Homo sapiens: one gene and its partner. The protein of the gene in region 1 binds, or shares a complex with, the protein of each later gene. Each region holds a gene or a part of one and is shown in the gene's direction. Other genes may lie near its edges.

Region 1 (7,632 bases):
GACCTTCTCATCATGGTCATGAGATAGCAAGATACCTTTTTTTTTTTTTTTTTTGAGACGGACTCTCACTCCGTGACCCAGGCTGGAGTGCAGTGGTGCAATCTCTGCTCACTGCAAGCTCCGCCTCCCAGGTTCACGCCATCCTCCTGCCTCAGCCTCCCGAGTAGCTGGGACTACAGGCCTCCGCCACCACACCTAGCTAACTTTTTTGTATTTTTTGGTAGAGACGGGGTTTCACCATGTTCGCTAGGATGGTCTCGATCTCCTGACCTCGTGATCTGCCCACCTCGGCCTCCCAGAGTGCTGGGATTACAGGCGTGAGCCACAGCGCCCGGCCAGTAGCAAGATATCTTTACGGGGTGAAAGACAGAAACTCGACACATGCACCTACTTTACGCTACACAGAGAAGGCAATTCCAGGGCCCGCAGGTCTAAATATGAAAGAGAAAATAAAACATTAAAATTTATAAGTGATAAAAAATAGTAAATATCTTCATGACATCAAGATAAAGGTTTCTTTAAAAGAACACAAGGCCGGGCGCAGTGGCTCACGCCTGTAATCCCAGCACTTTGGGAGGCCGAGGTGGGCGGATCACCTGAGGTCAAGAGTTCATGACCAGCCTGGCCAACATGACGAAACCCCATCTCTACTAAAAATACAAAATTTAGCCAGGCATGGTGGCACACGCATGTAGTCCCAGCTACTCGGGAGGCTGAGGCAGGAGAATCGCTTGAACCCGGGAGGCGGAGGTTGCAGTGAACCGAGATCTTGCCACTGCACTCCAGCCTGGGCAACAGAGCACGGCTCCATCGCAAACAAAAAATAATAGTAATAAAATAATGAGATAACACAAGTAACACCAGCCATAAGGAAACCAATTTGTAAGCGTGCTGTGTTAAAATGAAAATCTTCTGTCTTCATCCTGCCTCCCAAAAAGAGAGCATTACGGAAGTGAAAATTCAGACCCCGAATGAGAGGAGATGTGTAGCACAATGTACCCAAGTTCCTTTTCCACAGATGGCCTTGGCAGTGTCTGCCATCCCACATGCTCTTCTGCATGTGACCTTGCCTCTCTCTAATAATTGTGGGGAACATGTCCCCTAGGCAGGCTGTGACTTCTTCGAGACTATCTAGTTTCCACCTAGTTCTCTTGGATAGTCACTCTGGGGAAGCCACCTGCTACACAAGAACTTCAACTAATGTGGGATTGTCATGCTGGAAAGACACCGAATGGGCGCACTGGTTGGCAGCCCCAGCTGAGCTTCTGGACAACAGCCAGCACCGACCACCAGGCATCCAACCCAGCTAAGTAAGCCCTTGTCAAATTCCTGACTCTCAAAAGCATGAGCAAAACGAAATAGCTGCTGCTTTGCCCCACAACATCTTGGAGTACTTCATTATACAGCAATAATAAAGGAACTGATAAAAGACTCATATGCAGAATATATAAAGAACTACAAATCAATAAGAAAAAGACAGATGGGGAGTCGTAAAGAGCAAAAGACTTGAAATCTAAATGGCCAATTATAAAAATGTGCTCAACCGCAATGGTAATTAAGGAAAAGCTAATAGATCAGGCATGGTGGCTCACCTCCGTTAATCCCAGCACTTCGGGTGACTGAGGCGGGTGGATTACCCGAGGTCAGGAGTTTGAGGCCAGCATGGCTAACATGGTGAAATCCCGTCTCCACTAAAAATACAAAAATTAGCTGGGCATGGTGGCGTATGCCTGTAATCCCAGCTTCTCCAGGGGCTGAGGCAGGAGAATTGCTTGAACCTGGGAGGTGGAAGTTGCAGCGAGCCAGGATCGCGCCATTGCACTCCAGCCTGGGAACAGAGCAAGGCTCTGTCTCAAAAAAAAAAAAAAAAAAAAAAAATAGCTAATGAAACCGCAATGAGATGCCAATGCAAACCAACTAGAATGGCCACATTTTAAAAACCAAAACTGACAATACTGTGGGTAAAGGTGTGCGGCAGCGGTAACTGCTTACGCTGCCATGATCATGCAAAATGGTACAAATCACTTGAAAAAATACTTGGCACTGGCTACCAAAGTTGAAGACAGCATGTGTACACCAGGAAACACATACAAGAGTGTTGTGGCAAAAGTTGGAAACTGGTAACCACTCAAACTTCCATTAATAGTAGATGGACAAATTGTGGTGTATCCTACTGTGGAAAACTATGCAGTTACGAAAATGAGCAAAGTATAGATCATCACAGCAATATAGATGAATCTCACTAATGGTGTTGAGCAAAAGAATATAAATGGTATGAAGGCACTGAGATAAAGTGGAAAAAAAAAACAACAAGCAAAATGTGAGCTAAACTGTAGGGACACAAACACACAGAGAGGAGTAATAGACACTGGAGACTCCAAAAGCAGGGAGGGAGGGCAAGAGGTAAGGACTGAAAAATCACCTTTTGGGTAGAGTGTCCACTGTACAGGTGACGCGTACACTAAAAGCCCAGACTTCACCTGTACACAATATATGAATTAAGAAATCTGCACTTATGTCCTCTAAGTATACTTTAAAATTTTAAAAGCACATTCTGGCTGGATGCGGCGGCTCATCCCTGTCATCCCAGCATTCTGGGAGGCTGAGGCAGGTGGATCACTTGAGCCCAGGAGTTCAAGACCAGCTTGGGCAACGTGGCGAAAACCCAGCTATGCAAAAAAGTCACTGGGTGTGGTGGCGCACATCTGTGGTCCCAGCTACTTGGGAGGCTGAGGTGGGAGGATCATTTGAGCCCGGGGGGTGCTGAGGCTGCGGTGAGCAGATATCATGTCACTGCACTCCAGCCTGGGTGACAAAGTGAGACCCTGTCTAAAACAACAACAACAACAAAAAAAAAACAAGTATATTCTGGGCGGGGCACAGTGGCTCATGCCTATAATCCCAGCACTTTGGGAGGCTGAGGTTGGCAGATCAGGAAGTCAGGAGTTTGAGACCAGCCTGGTCAACATGGTTAAACCCCCATCTCTACTAAAAATACAAAAATTAGCCGGGCATGGTGCCGGGTGCCTGGAATCACAGCTACTCAGGAGGCTGAGGCGGGAGAATTGCTTGACCCCAGGAGGCAGAGGTTGCATTGCAGTGCAGTGAGATCGTCCCACTGCACTCCAGCCTGGGCAACAAAAGAGAGACTTTGAGAAAAAAAAAAAAAAGTACATTCTGAAAAAAAAAGCAAAACATATATTTTGATGATAAAATGATAAACAAAAGCAGGGAAATGATAATGCCAGGGTAGTGGGCATCTTCTGGGGTTGGTGAGGGGTTTGTGATGGGAAGTGAGGGGATGTGGGGATGTCATTCTACATCCCTTGGCCTGGAGAATGGAAACACAGGTATTTGTTGCTTTAAAATTCAGGTTTATAATATGCTGATATATTATGTACTTTCCATAAGTGTGTTACATCTCATAATCTTTCAAAGCTAAAAAAAATCAATATATGATTGATAAATACCTAACTTCATGTATCGCTTGGTTACCTAGTTTCCCCAACCTTATTTGTTAAATTATCTACACTATCCGCACTGATTTGTGATTCCAGCTTAATAATATAGCCACTTCTTACCTGGATTGGAGAGAGCTGGTAGTGGTTATTGAAAATCTACTCTTGCTTTTTGGCGAGGATGAAAGGGCTTTGGGGGGCGGGGGTGGGGGGATGGAAAATGTGAATGAAACGAAAAGCAGGGAAGGAGGTTGAGACAGTCATGGTCATGGGCTTCATTATTAAACAGGAAAATTCTAGAGACAAACTGAAAAGAGAACGGAAGTCTGTAAGAGGGTTGCCAAGTCAGAAAGCAAAAGCAAAGTGTCGCTTTATTAAAAAGGTGGGGGCGGGTCCTGATTGAGCTGAGAACAAAACATCTGGGGGAGTTCTAAAGCTAGGAGGCCAGGCCTGCAGGGAGGGGGTCGGTCATCCCGGGTGTCCCGCTCACGGGTGCGGCTTCCGTCGACACTGTCCGTCGACACTGTGCAGGTAAACACTGCTGAACGGGTTTTGTTTTTGCTTTTTTTTTTTTTTTTTTGGCTCCCAGACTGGAGTGCAGTGGCGCGATCTCGGCTCACTGCAACCTCCTTCTCCCGGGTTCAAGCGATTCTCCTGCCTCAGCCCCCCCGAGAAGCTGGGATTACAGGCGCGCACAACCAAGCTCGGCGTATTATTTTATTTATTTGCTTGTTTATTTTTGAGACTGGGTCTCCCTATGTTACGCCGGCTGGTGCCACTATTTTCAAAGATGTAACATACTATTTTTACAAGGATTGCTTTCTTGTTTAGTCTAGATTTTACCGATGGAAAGAAAGGACGGAAAAGAGCGCGTGCCGCATTTTGCTCCCCTTTGCCCACCAGGCTCCATCACCTCCGGAGCGCATCGCGAGACCGTCTGCGTTACCCGCGTCCCCGCGCCCGGAGCCGCCCAGGAGGGGGCCCGGACCCTGTGGTGCGGAGCGCGCACTGCTCGGGTGCACCGGACGCCCCGCGGCGGGCTGGGAGGGACGGGGGGAGGGGGGCGCGGGGAGCGGCCTGAATCCCGGGCCCGCCTCCGGCCCCCGCCCCGCCCCGCCCCGCCCCAGGCCAGCCGGCGCCCGCGCGGACACTTTCAGCCCCGAGCCGCGGCCGCTCGGGTCGGACCCACGCGCAGCGGCCGGAGATGCAGCGGGGCGCCGCGCTGTGCCTGCGACTGTGGCTCTGCCTGGGACTCCTGGACGGTGAGCGCGGCGAACGGGCCACCCGCCCGAGCGTGGGGCTGGCCGGGGAGGGGGTACCGCGCACCTGGGGCGGGCGCTGAGACCGCTCCGCCGGGTACGGGCGGGGGACACGGTGGCCCTGGTGCGCGGACGCCTGAGGGGAGCACGGCGCTTGGGGCGCGGGACCTCGGGATGAGGAAGGGGCGGGCGGGGACCGCAGCCGGGTCAGGGCCAGGGCGGCCGGGCCGCGCCTCGGCGCAGGGGTAGCTCTCCCGGCCCCTGAATCCGCGTCTCCGTCGGTGGCTCCGCGTCCTCGGAGCCGGGCCCTGCCGGGCTGCGCGCTGAGCCCGGATCCTTCGCGCCCTTACTCGCTTCCCCGCGGGGTCCCCGCGCCGCGCCGTCCCGACCCACGCGCGCCGGAGATCCATCCCGGCCGGGCCCCGGACTTGGGTGCGCACTTCCCGACGCCCAGCGCCTCCGCTCGCGGTCGGTCCCCCAGAGGGCGCTCGAGGCGGGCTTCCCCCTCCCCGTGGCCGGCGACGGCGGGGACAGGGGCCGGGGACCACCGCGCGCCCGAGGCGGACGGGTGCAGGTGCACGCTGGCACTTGAGACGAATCTTGAGGAGGCGAATCGCGGGCTGTCAGCGCCGCAGAAGGGGCGGAAGGCCAGGGGTCCCCGGATTTGAGGGGACAGGGGCCTCGAAGGCCAGCTGAGGAGCAGAGGCCCCCGCGGGAGGGTCCCCTGCACAGGAGAGGCGGGGTTCGGTTTGTGTTGGGATGTGGCTCTGGCGGGGAGAGACGCAGACCTGAAGCGGAGGCGGAGGGGTTGGAAAGAGGGACTGTGGGGGATGAGCGGGCGGCAGAGGGAGTGGATGGAGATGTCAGGGAGGAAGCTGAGAAGATGAGCTGGGAGTCCCCACGGAGCTGGTGTCCCTGGAAATCAAAGGGTGTAAGGGCGGGGTCAGGGGTTCCAGTGTCTGAAGCCCTGAAGTCAGCGACGGGGACCTCAACATTTCTGCACGCCATAGGAATTAAATACTGGCTTTACATGCTTGTAATTCTCACAGGGAGTGTCAGACCCATTTTACACATGGAGAAGCTTAGACCAAGGACATGTGTCACTTCCCCAAGGTCCCCAGGAGGCCCAAAGTAAGCCTGACAAAGCCTGCCTTTGCTCACCACCTGTATGTCCACTGGCTGAAGGGCAGAGGACAGGAGAGGGGGCAGGTCTGGCTCAACCAGGGGAGGAGGGAGGAGAACATCTATCTGGGCCTCCGAGTCGGGCAGGCCAGATCAGGGCGCTGCCCTTGGCCCTCCTGGACCCAGCCCAGGACCAGGCTCCCACAGGTGCTCAGGATGTATTTGTCGAGTGGCTGGTAGACCTTGGTTGGACTGCAGGGCTGTAGAATGGGAGACGCTTATCCTGGAGGAGACATGGGACAGGCACCTGGGCGCAGTGTCTGAGCTGGGCTGAGTAGCTGGAGAGGAAGAGAGAGACCCGGGAGGGGAACCCTGGAGGAGGGGCCCAGAGGGCAAGGGGGCTTCCAGGGATCCAGGGAACATTCTGCAGGTATAAGGAGAACCAGGAGAGGCCAGTGTCCTGGTGCTCCCGGGTGGAGCACAGAGGGACGTGGGGTGAAGGGTGAGGAAGCTATTCCCTGCAGTAAGTAGTGACTCTTAGTGACCCAGTTATGAAGAGGAGAGAGGGCATTAGTTGGGCGCCCCATGGAGAGGGGTGTCCTGGGCTGGACCTGGGTTTGGCTGGTGGGGAGATGGCAATGAAGACAGAGGTCATCCCTCCGTGAGCCCTGCACCTTGCTGTACCCCCTGCTAGGCTGAAGACCCCGGGAGCCCCCAGCTTGATGGGGGATGCCATGGCGGAAGCACAAGCCCTCAGCTGCAGTCGGGTGTCAGGGCAGCTGGTCCGGTGGGAGCTGCAGTCGGGTGTCAGGGCAGCTGGTCCGGTGGGAGCAGGCCAGAAGCCTGAGCATCCTGAAGCTGACCCCTTAAAAGTGTGCTATTGATCATAGAACCAGACTCTTGTCCTGCCTCTGCCGTAAAGTCCTTTCTGTGTGACCTGGGCCCCCTCCTTTCCCCTCCCTGCACCTCAGTTTCCCCAAGCATAGCCATGGCACAAGCATAGCCATGGCACAAGCATAGCCATGGCACAAGCTGGCAAGCCCCGAGGTTGTGTGGGTTGTGTGTGCTTGGGCTGGACTCCAAGACCCAGATGCCTGCTGCAGTTCCACAGTCTTGCCCCAGTGGAGAGGGTAGGTCACAGATGTCTCTTGGGGCTTAGTCTAGAGAGAGGCCATTGGCACCTCTGCACTGTGGCTACCAGCTCAGGGACATGCAGGAGCAGGGTCTGCTGGGCATCTGGAGTGGCCTGGTCTCAGGACGTTTGCCCTTGCTGTGACCTGGGTCACAAAGGCCCAGATGTGGACAGATGTGTGGCCCAGGGATGCAAGTCACTGCAGGCAGGATGTGGGGATCAGGCCCACTTTACTTGGGCCTGGGGACCTTCTGCTCCAGCTCAGGGCTCTGAGGACTCGAATGCAGGTGCTGTTCCCTCATCCACCAGGCCTATGGCACAGAGCCAGTGTGGCTGAAGGAGTCCTGAGCCCTCCCAGAGCATAGGGCCCACATGGCTGGGCCCAGACAGGGTACGAGGTGTGATGTGTGGTCTGTCTGGCGAATTCTTCACTGTAACCCCCAGCAGTGGCACCCCGACCCAGGGAAGGAGCCTGCAGTTCTATGCAAGACCCCAGCATAGTGCCTGTTCGGGGTGGCCCAGGGAGGACTTGGACCTGGCCCCATCGCACAGGGGTTTCCTGTGCCTTGCAGGGACACAGACATGCCATCAGACGTGTATTGCCCAGGGATGAAAGTGTTCAGGGGCCCTGGTGAGGCCCAGCTGGTGGCTGTAAGCTGCA
Region 2 (7,025 bases), on another chromosome or scaffold:
CCCAATAGATGCAATGTTTTCATAACTTTCACCTAGGAACTTTTTTAATATTTAAAAAATCAAAAATAGCACACAAACTATGAACCAAGGTTAGCCATCCAGCCCTTCAGCCCACCCGTAAAGCCATGCAAAAGATTGTAGGTAAAAATCACAAATAGAATGAAGATCTCCTTATTCCTCGACTTATATTTGCATTTACTGGATTCCTATTTCTAGTTATTTGTGGTTGCATGACTTACTGAAAAGTCTTAAAATGTTTCTCTGAAGGATGTTAACACAAACAAGACAGTGTCAAAAAAGTAAGGCAGGCAAAAGTAAAATTAACTGGACATGATGGGAACAAAAGAGAATAGCAAGTCTGAAGCTGTTCTATTTACAATTTTTCTTATAGTATATGATTATGTTTGTCAACATCTACTCTTATAAGAGATTTCTGACATTCCTCTGAGTGATGCTACTTATATGAGGTTTTAGATATAGAAAGTTCAATTCATCTTTCATTTTGATTTCCACTCCATTATAGTCTTCTGAACTATGAATATCTGATTGATAGCTATTTATTCACAAGACAGTTATCAAAATTGCTTCATAGAAAGCAGTTAATTACTGATCTTAGTGGCATATGTCTAAGACCCGTAGATCTCTAATCCTGTCCTTTTCAGTTGAGTTGAGAAAGACGGAGGGTAGTGGATTTAGATTTCATTTTGGACTTCCAGTTCTGGTTCCGGTTCCTCTTGAGAGGAAGGTCCTGGCCTCCTAGTTATCTCCATGTGTCCAACCCAGAATGCTGTTTCTCAGCTCTTGCTGGGGTTTTCACCAACAGAGGAACTGGCGTGAGACTAATGAAGGTTTCCCGAATCCCTGGGACTGTGCTTGCCTGCTTGCCTTTGGCAGTCCTGGGGTTGTTATTGAGAGTAGGAGTTTATAATCATTATCTGTGATGTTCATAACGTGTGTTAAGCACTTCGCAAAGAGCTTTGCAAGTTAGTTTTGTTTTTCACTACACCTCCATAATATGGACATTATTTTATTTCATTAAGGATGATGAACCCAAGATCTGAATGACTTAACCAGGAAAAAGAATAGATGTTTTTTTCCTTTTTTTCTTTTAAAAAAAGTTTTATGGCATATACCAACAGTCCCCGACTTAGAATGGTTCTATTTAGGACTTTTGGACTTTACAATGGTGCAAAGTCGATAGACATTCAGTAGAAACCATACTTCAAGGTTTGAATTTTGATCTTTTCCTGGGCTAATAATATGCAGTAAAATACTTTCTCTGGATGCTGGACAATGGAAGTGAGCTGTGACCAGTCAGCCATGTGATCGTGAGAGTAAACAACAGGTACTCTACTGTATATTAAATATATTTTCAACTCAGGAGGAATTTGTCAGGATGTAGCCCCATCGTAAATCGAGAAGCATGTATGTTTTAGAGAAATGTGGTAATGGGTTTGGGCCTTTGGGCCTGTGATTCAGACTCCTTTCAGCCCCTCTGCTGGTCTCCTTTGGCACACTATAGCAGCGTGCAGGAAGGCAGAGAAAAGCACTGCGTGTGACTTTGCAGTTAGGGGCACCTTGTTGCATTTATTTAGGTCCTAATTCCCCACAACGGGACAAACGGAAATAAACCCAGACTTTCTTCCAGGCTTTACCACATGGTGTTCGTTTGACTAAAGATAAATTATAAATGACCTAATCCATGGTAATATTATAAGAACGACTGCTTAACTGGAGGCTTAACAAGATTTTCTGACAAACGGTTTTTCAAAGTTGTGCTCAAGTAACTTCAGTGAAAGATTGTGATTTTACCTCTGCCAAATGACCTTTCACAAATAAGTGGATTTGGAAAGAACAAATTTAAGTTGGCAGAAGCGTTATACTTCCTCTGACTTCTGAGCATATATTGTTTCACCTTTCACCAGTTACATTATTCCTTGTAGATGTGCATTTTATAAATACTATATGGGTCTACCTTTTGTTACAAACACATATTTGTATGTACAGATTTGTATAAATTGTGGATTAAGTTATCATTGATTTTTCTCATTAGAAAAAACAGATATAGCAGAGAACTTTAAACAAGGAGAGATGCTGATGAGTTTGAGTTATAGTGTAATTATAAAATTTACTATAAATATTTTAGGTTTGTGTAATTGTTTTTCTGAAACTTACTAGTGTAAATTTTTGGGGTGGCTTCTTTCCTCGGTTGATTAATTTTTTTTTTCAGAGTTTATGTTTAACCATGAGAAAGCAGAGACTGTTTTTATTTAATTTGCTTTATTGGGCATCCATCATGGAATTAATCAAATTGTACATTAAATGCTTTGTCAGTGGATTAGTACTGTTTCCTTATACTGCTCGCGCCCTAGTGGCTTTCAGGTGTTAGGAGTTATCCACGATAGTTTTTTTTCCAATTTTGAAATCCAAAAACTCATTTTCTTTTTCTTTCTTTCCTTTTTTTTTTTTTTTTTGAGACAGGGTCATGCTCTATTGCCCAGGCTGGAGTGCAGTGGCATGATGTTGGCTCACTGCAACCTCTGCCTCGTGGGTTCAAGCGATTCTCGTGCCTCAGCCTCCCAAGTAGCTGGAATTACAGGCATGTGCCACTAGAGCAGGCTAATTTTTGTATTTTTCATAGAGAGAGGGTTTTGTCTTGTAGGCGAAGCTGGTTTCAAACTCCTGACTTCAGGTGATCCACTTGATCTCCTAAAGTGCTGGGATTACAGGCATGAGCCACTGCGCCCGGCCCCAAAAGCTAATTTTCTTAAATTATTTGGTGCTATAATCCTGATCTGAACTGACATAAGGCTATTTATAGTCATTATTATCTAATTTAAATATTTCTAATCTTCACTGGGAAAATAGTAATGTATTTATTTACATGATGCTGCCATCAGTCCTGCTTGTTTTTGGGGTGTGAGTATTAATATGTCTATGCACTTGGTTTCCAGAAAAATTCCAGGTTCAGAGACTCTTGCAGTCTCCAGGCATTTTGGATAAGCAGATGGATTGTAGCCCTGTTCCACAGGCCTTCCTCCATTGCTTTATTGCCTTGGGGCTGCCTGGAAGAGGCAGGGAAAGGTAATCCAGGAATTCAAGAAAGAAGCCATGTGGATGCTCCTAATTCCTTTTTACCCATTAGTACCAGGTTTATTTGCTCTTTAATCTACTTCAACTCATGTTAATCAGTTCTTACTAGTGGCAGCTTCAGTTCTAAGCAGGAAATTACAGTTCAGTGTGTGATGCAAAAAATGTAGAGTGAGTGATCTTGTCTATAACAAGCTTATAATCATTTTGGAGAAAATAAATTTACTCATTAAAAATACTACAAGTGAATTAAACTATAAATCCAGACCATGTAAGTGGTTTTGTAAGAGAGTCTTGTGAGTTACCACCAGTTGTTGGCTAGCCTTCTGGGAGTTGCATGGGCAGGCCTGGGAAAGGTGGAATGATATGAGACCCAATGTTAAAAATGAGTAGATGCTAATTACAGAAATGGGGGAGAGAGGGATGTTTTGAATATTGAAGAATGACAGCAAAGTACAGAGGAAGTAAAGGTCAGGGATATTTGGGGAACTAGAAGCAAACCCTTTGGTGCAAAAGTCAAGAGCTTTAAGGGAAACTGAAGGGAGCATGGTGGGAAGTGTGAAAACCAAAGAGAAAGTCTGAGTTTGAGTTGAAAGCAGCAGGAGCCAATGAAGATTCTTTAGTGGTATGCTGAAAGTGAGGTTTTTAAGGAGCTTAACCTGGCATTGTTGCACAGAAGTGTCTAAGAAAGCTGACCAGAAGCTTCTCAGAAGCTTCTCAGAAGCCATTTTCAACTGCAGGGTTTCTTAAAGTGTCTGGCAGTGACTCTGCCTTTCTCATTACAGTGGCCACCCATATATGGTATTCGAACTCCTCTATATGCTCCTGATTGCTGGCGATGATAGTGGTGATTACTTTTGACTTACTGTAGGCACCCATCATTGTGCTATCTGGATACATTTACAAAAGTATAGAAATAGACATCTCTGCCATTATGGTTTGCATTCCAAACGAAGCAAGCAGTGTAAACAGTGGTCATGCTTAGATACACATACACAGAACCCCCCACACACATATTCATGCATACACCGCTTAATAGTTCTTCAGACTGCCAAGTGTGACTTACGTGTTCTTTCTTGCATGGTTAAGAATTTGTAGACAGTTCATTGAAATAGAATATTTAGACAATCAGAAGTGTACAAGATTAGAATCTCTATATTTGCACACACATTTATTTGTAGGTCAGTGGGCAATTGAAAAAAAAGAGAAGGAGAGAACCCTAAAGTGTCCTGGAAATTCCTGCTTTTTAAAATCTGCTAAAAATGAGACCAGAAAGGTGGGAGTGGGGATGTGAGGAGGTGGGTAAACTACCAAATAAACAATATAAATACTTTGGCTGTTCTTATAAAAGGTTTTTTTAAATATGGTGGAATAATTTACTCAAACTCAAGAGATGCCACCTACTAGAGAAAGGACATACTGAAAGAGGAAATATTCAAATGCACAACTTTGTGTAAAAGGTAATACTTACAAGTTTAAAAGACTCACTTCTAAAGAAGTTTGGCTTCAACCTGTCCTCATTTGGACAGGTGGAAAGATGTATATTTTGGGGTAGACCAGAAAGATGTGGTTTGACTTCTATAGTTGAAAGGTTTCTATTTAGACATTTATTTTGTAATTTAATTTACCTAAAACTTCATCCCTAAATTACCATTTTCTCTTACTTTTATGCAATAGTAAAGTATGCAGTCATAAGTGATAAAGGCTGGGATCAAAGCTAGCTATTTTGCTAACTGCAGAACCTATGCACTCTGTTTACACTGCCTGTGATAGCGCCTGGAAGAACTCACTGCCAATATTTCTGCTTGTTTCAGTCACATAACTGTTGCTTGTGTCAGTGACGTAACTTGTTTAGAGATGCAGTGCAGTGGATAAGAGCACAGGGTATGGACATGCCTTTCTGTATTCATGTCCTGAGGATGCCTCTTAGTACCTGTGTGACCTTGGACAAGTTACTTAGTTTCTCTCTGCTTCTTTGTAGCACAATGAGTAGATGCTAATTTTTAATTTTTAATTTTTTCTTTTTCTTTGTGTCTGTTTTGTGTATTTAGTTACTTTATCTTTTTTTTTTTTTTTTTTTTTTTGAGACAGACTCTGGCTCTGTAGCCCAGGCTGGATGGAATGCAGTGGTGCTATCTCAGCTCACTGCAAGCTCCGCCTCCCAGGTTCACGCCATTCTCCTGCCTCAGCCTCCTGAGTAGCTGGAACTACAGGTGCCCACCACCACACCCAGCTAATTTTTTTTTTATATTTTTTTAGTAGAGACGGGGTTTGACCATGTTAGCCAGAATGGTCTCAATCTCCTGACCTCGTGATCTGCCCGCCTCGGCCTCCCAAAGTGCTGGGATTACAGGTGTGAACCACCACGCCCAGCCTAGTTACTTTATCCTTTTAAAAGTCCTCTTCCAAAATGTAGAATATAATTAATGCCTGCTTAATCAGGTTGTTTTGAGGATAAGAATGTGTATATAGGCCAGGTGTGGTGGCTCACGTCTGTAATCCCAGCACTTTGGGAGTCTGAGTCAGGTAGATCACTTGAACCCAGGAGTTTGAGACCAGCCTGAGCAACATGGGGAAAACCCTATCTCTACAAAAAATAGAAAAATTAACTGGGCATGGTGACACGTGCCTGTATTCACAGCTACTCTGGAGGCTGAGGTGAGAAGATGGCTTGAGCCCAGGAGGCGGAGGTTGCAGTGAGTGAGCTGAGATCACCCCACTGCACTCCAGCCTGGGCAACAGAGTGAGACTCTGTTTCAAAAAAAAAAAAAAAAAAACAGCATGTGCATACATATAAAGCCCTTGGAACCATGATTGGCATATAGTAAGCTTTCTGTAAATTTGTGTTAAATAGATAGTCTTCATGATCAGAAAACAAACAAAGAATATAGCATGTAAGTACTATGTCCTAGACATATGACATAACTGTGATTCTTCAGCACCTTGCAACTAATTTATTAAATTTTTAAAATTATAAATTACTGACAATTTTCCCAATTTCTAAAATATAGCAAGAGGATATAATACTGATGTTTGATTTTGAAACAGGTGAAGGAAATGCAGGGTGTTTAATCATTCAGTGTCTGGAGGCTACATACTGTAGTTCTGCCTATAATATGTTCCCACTTCCCCTGGGTGCCGGGGTTTGTTCCTCTCCTGGAGGGCAGCACAGGTGTCCATAGACCACACCAAACCAAAGAATCTGGGATGATGCTGTCTCCTTATGTGCTTCATTCATACTTAGGTCATTTGGCTGTAAAGGATTTTGGTACACATAAGCTTTTTATAATGCCATATAATTTAATATGAACTCATCTTGAATATATTCAGAGCATATACATTTTCAAGTTTAAATGTTTATTAATGAAACATGCTAATGTTGCTACTTTGATGTGTAAATATCTCATCTATATTATTGCCACAAAAAATAAATATGCATTCTAAATTTACAATGAAATCATCACAGAATACCTAAAATATCAACAATTTCACTGAGGAAAATATAAAGAAAACTTAAGGGGAGAATGCTATATGCCAGAGTTAAACTTGTGTGAATTTGTTTAGGAAAATGTGATTGCACTGTTCCTAAGGGACCCTCTTCCAGAATGGTAACTAGTACAGCGTGTGCTGTCTGAGATGTGCGGACACTGGGACACTGGGATGAATTATGGAGTAGATACTTTCCTTCTCTGAGAGTAAGCTGATTTGCTTGAGTACTCTAGTTTATTCCAAATAGTTGATTTTGTTTGGTGGTTCTCTTTGTCAATTTGCCAGTCAGTGCTGTGACTTGCGTGGTTACCCTGTGCTGAAGACTACAGTGCTGGGGGCATTGGAGGCCCGTGAGCAGACAGGAAAAAGGGAGGAAAAATCAGTGGTGGACACACTTCCCAGCTCTTGAACAGCTGACAGCATATTTTTTTGATTCAGTAACATCC

Evidence for each region.
Region 2: the proteins of FLT4 (region 1) and VEGFC are in contact, whole or in part, in a crystal structure (PDB 4BSK), measured with the Homo sapiens proteins. Residues at the interface, in NP_891555.2 of Homo sapiens: Gln172, His199, Asp200, Ala201, Leu202, Tyr203; in NP_005420.1 of Homo sapiens: Leu119, Asp123, Trp126, Gln130, Asn167, Arg210.

Annotation. Positions count from the first base shown.
Region 1 is NC_000005.10:180,646,576-180,654,207, reverse strand, and holds the start of FLT4 (vascular endothelial growth factor receptor 3 isoform 1 precursor), read left to right. Parts: upstream 1-4,607; 5' UTR 4,608-4,662; coding exon 4,663-4,720; intron 4,721-7,632. UniProt on the Homo sapiens protein: Tyrosine-protein kinase that acts as a cell-surface receptor for VEGFC and VEGFD, and plays an essential role in adult lymphangiogenesis and in the development of the vascular network and the cardiovascular system during embryonic development.
Region 2 is NC_000004.12:176,782,906-176,789,930, reverse strand, and holds part of VEGFC (vascular endothelial growth factor C preproprotein), read left to right. Parts: intron 1-7,025. UniProt on the Homo sapiens protein: Growth factor active in angiogenesis, and endothelial cell growth, stimulating their proliferation and migration and also has effects on the permeability of blood vessels.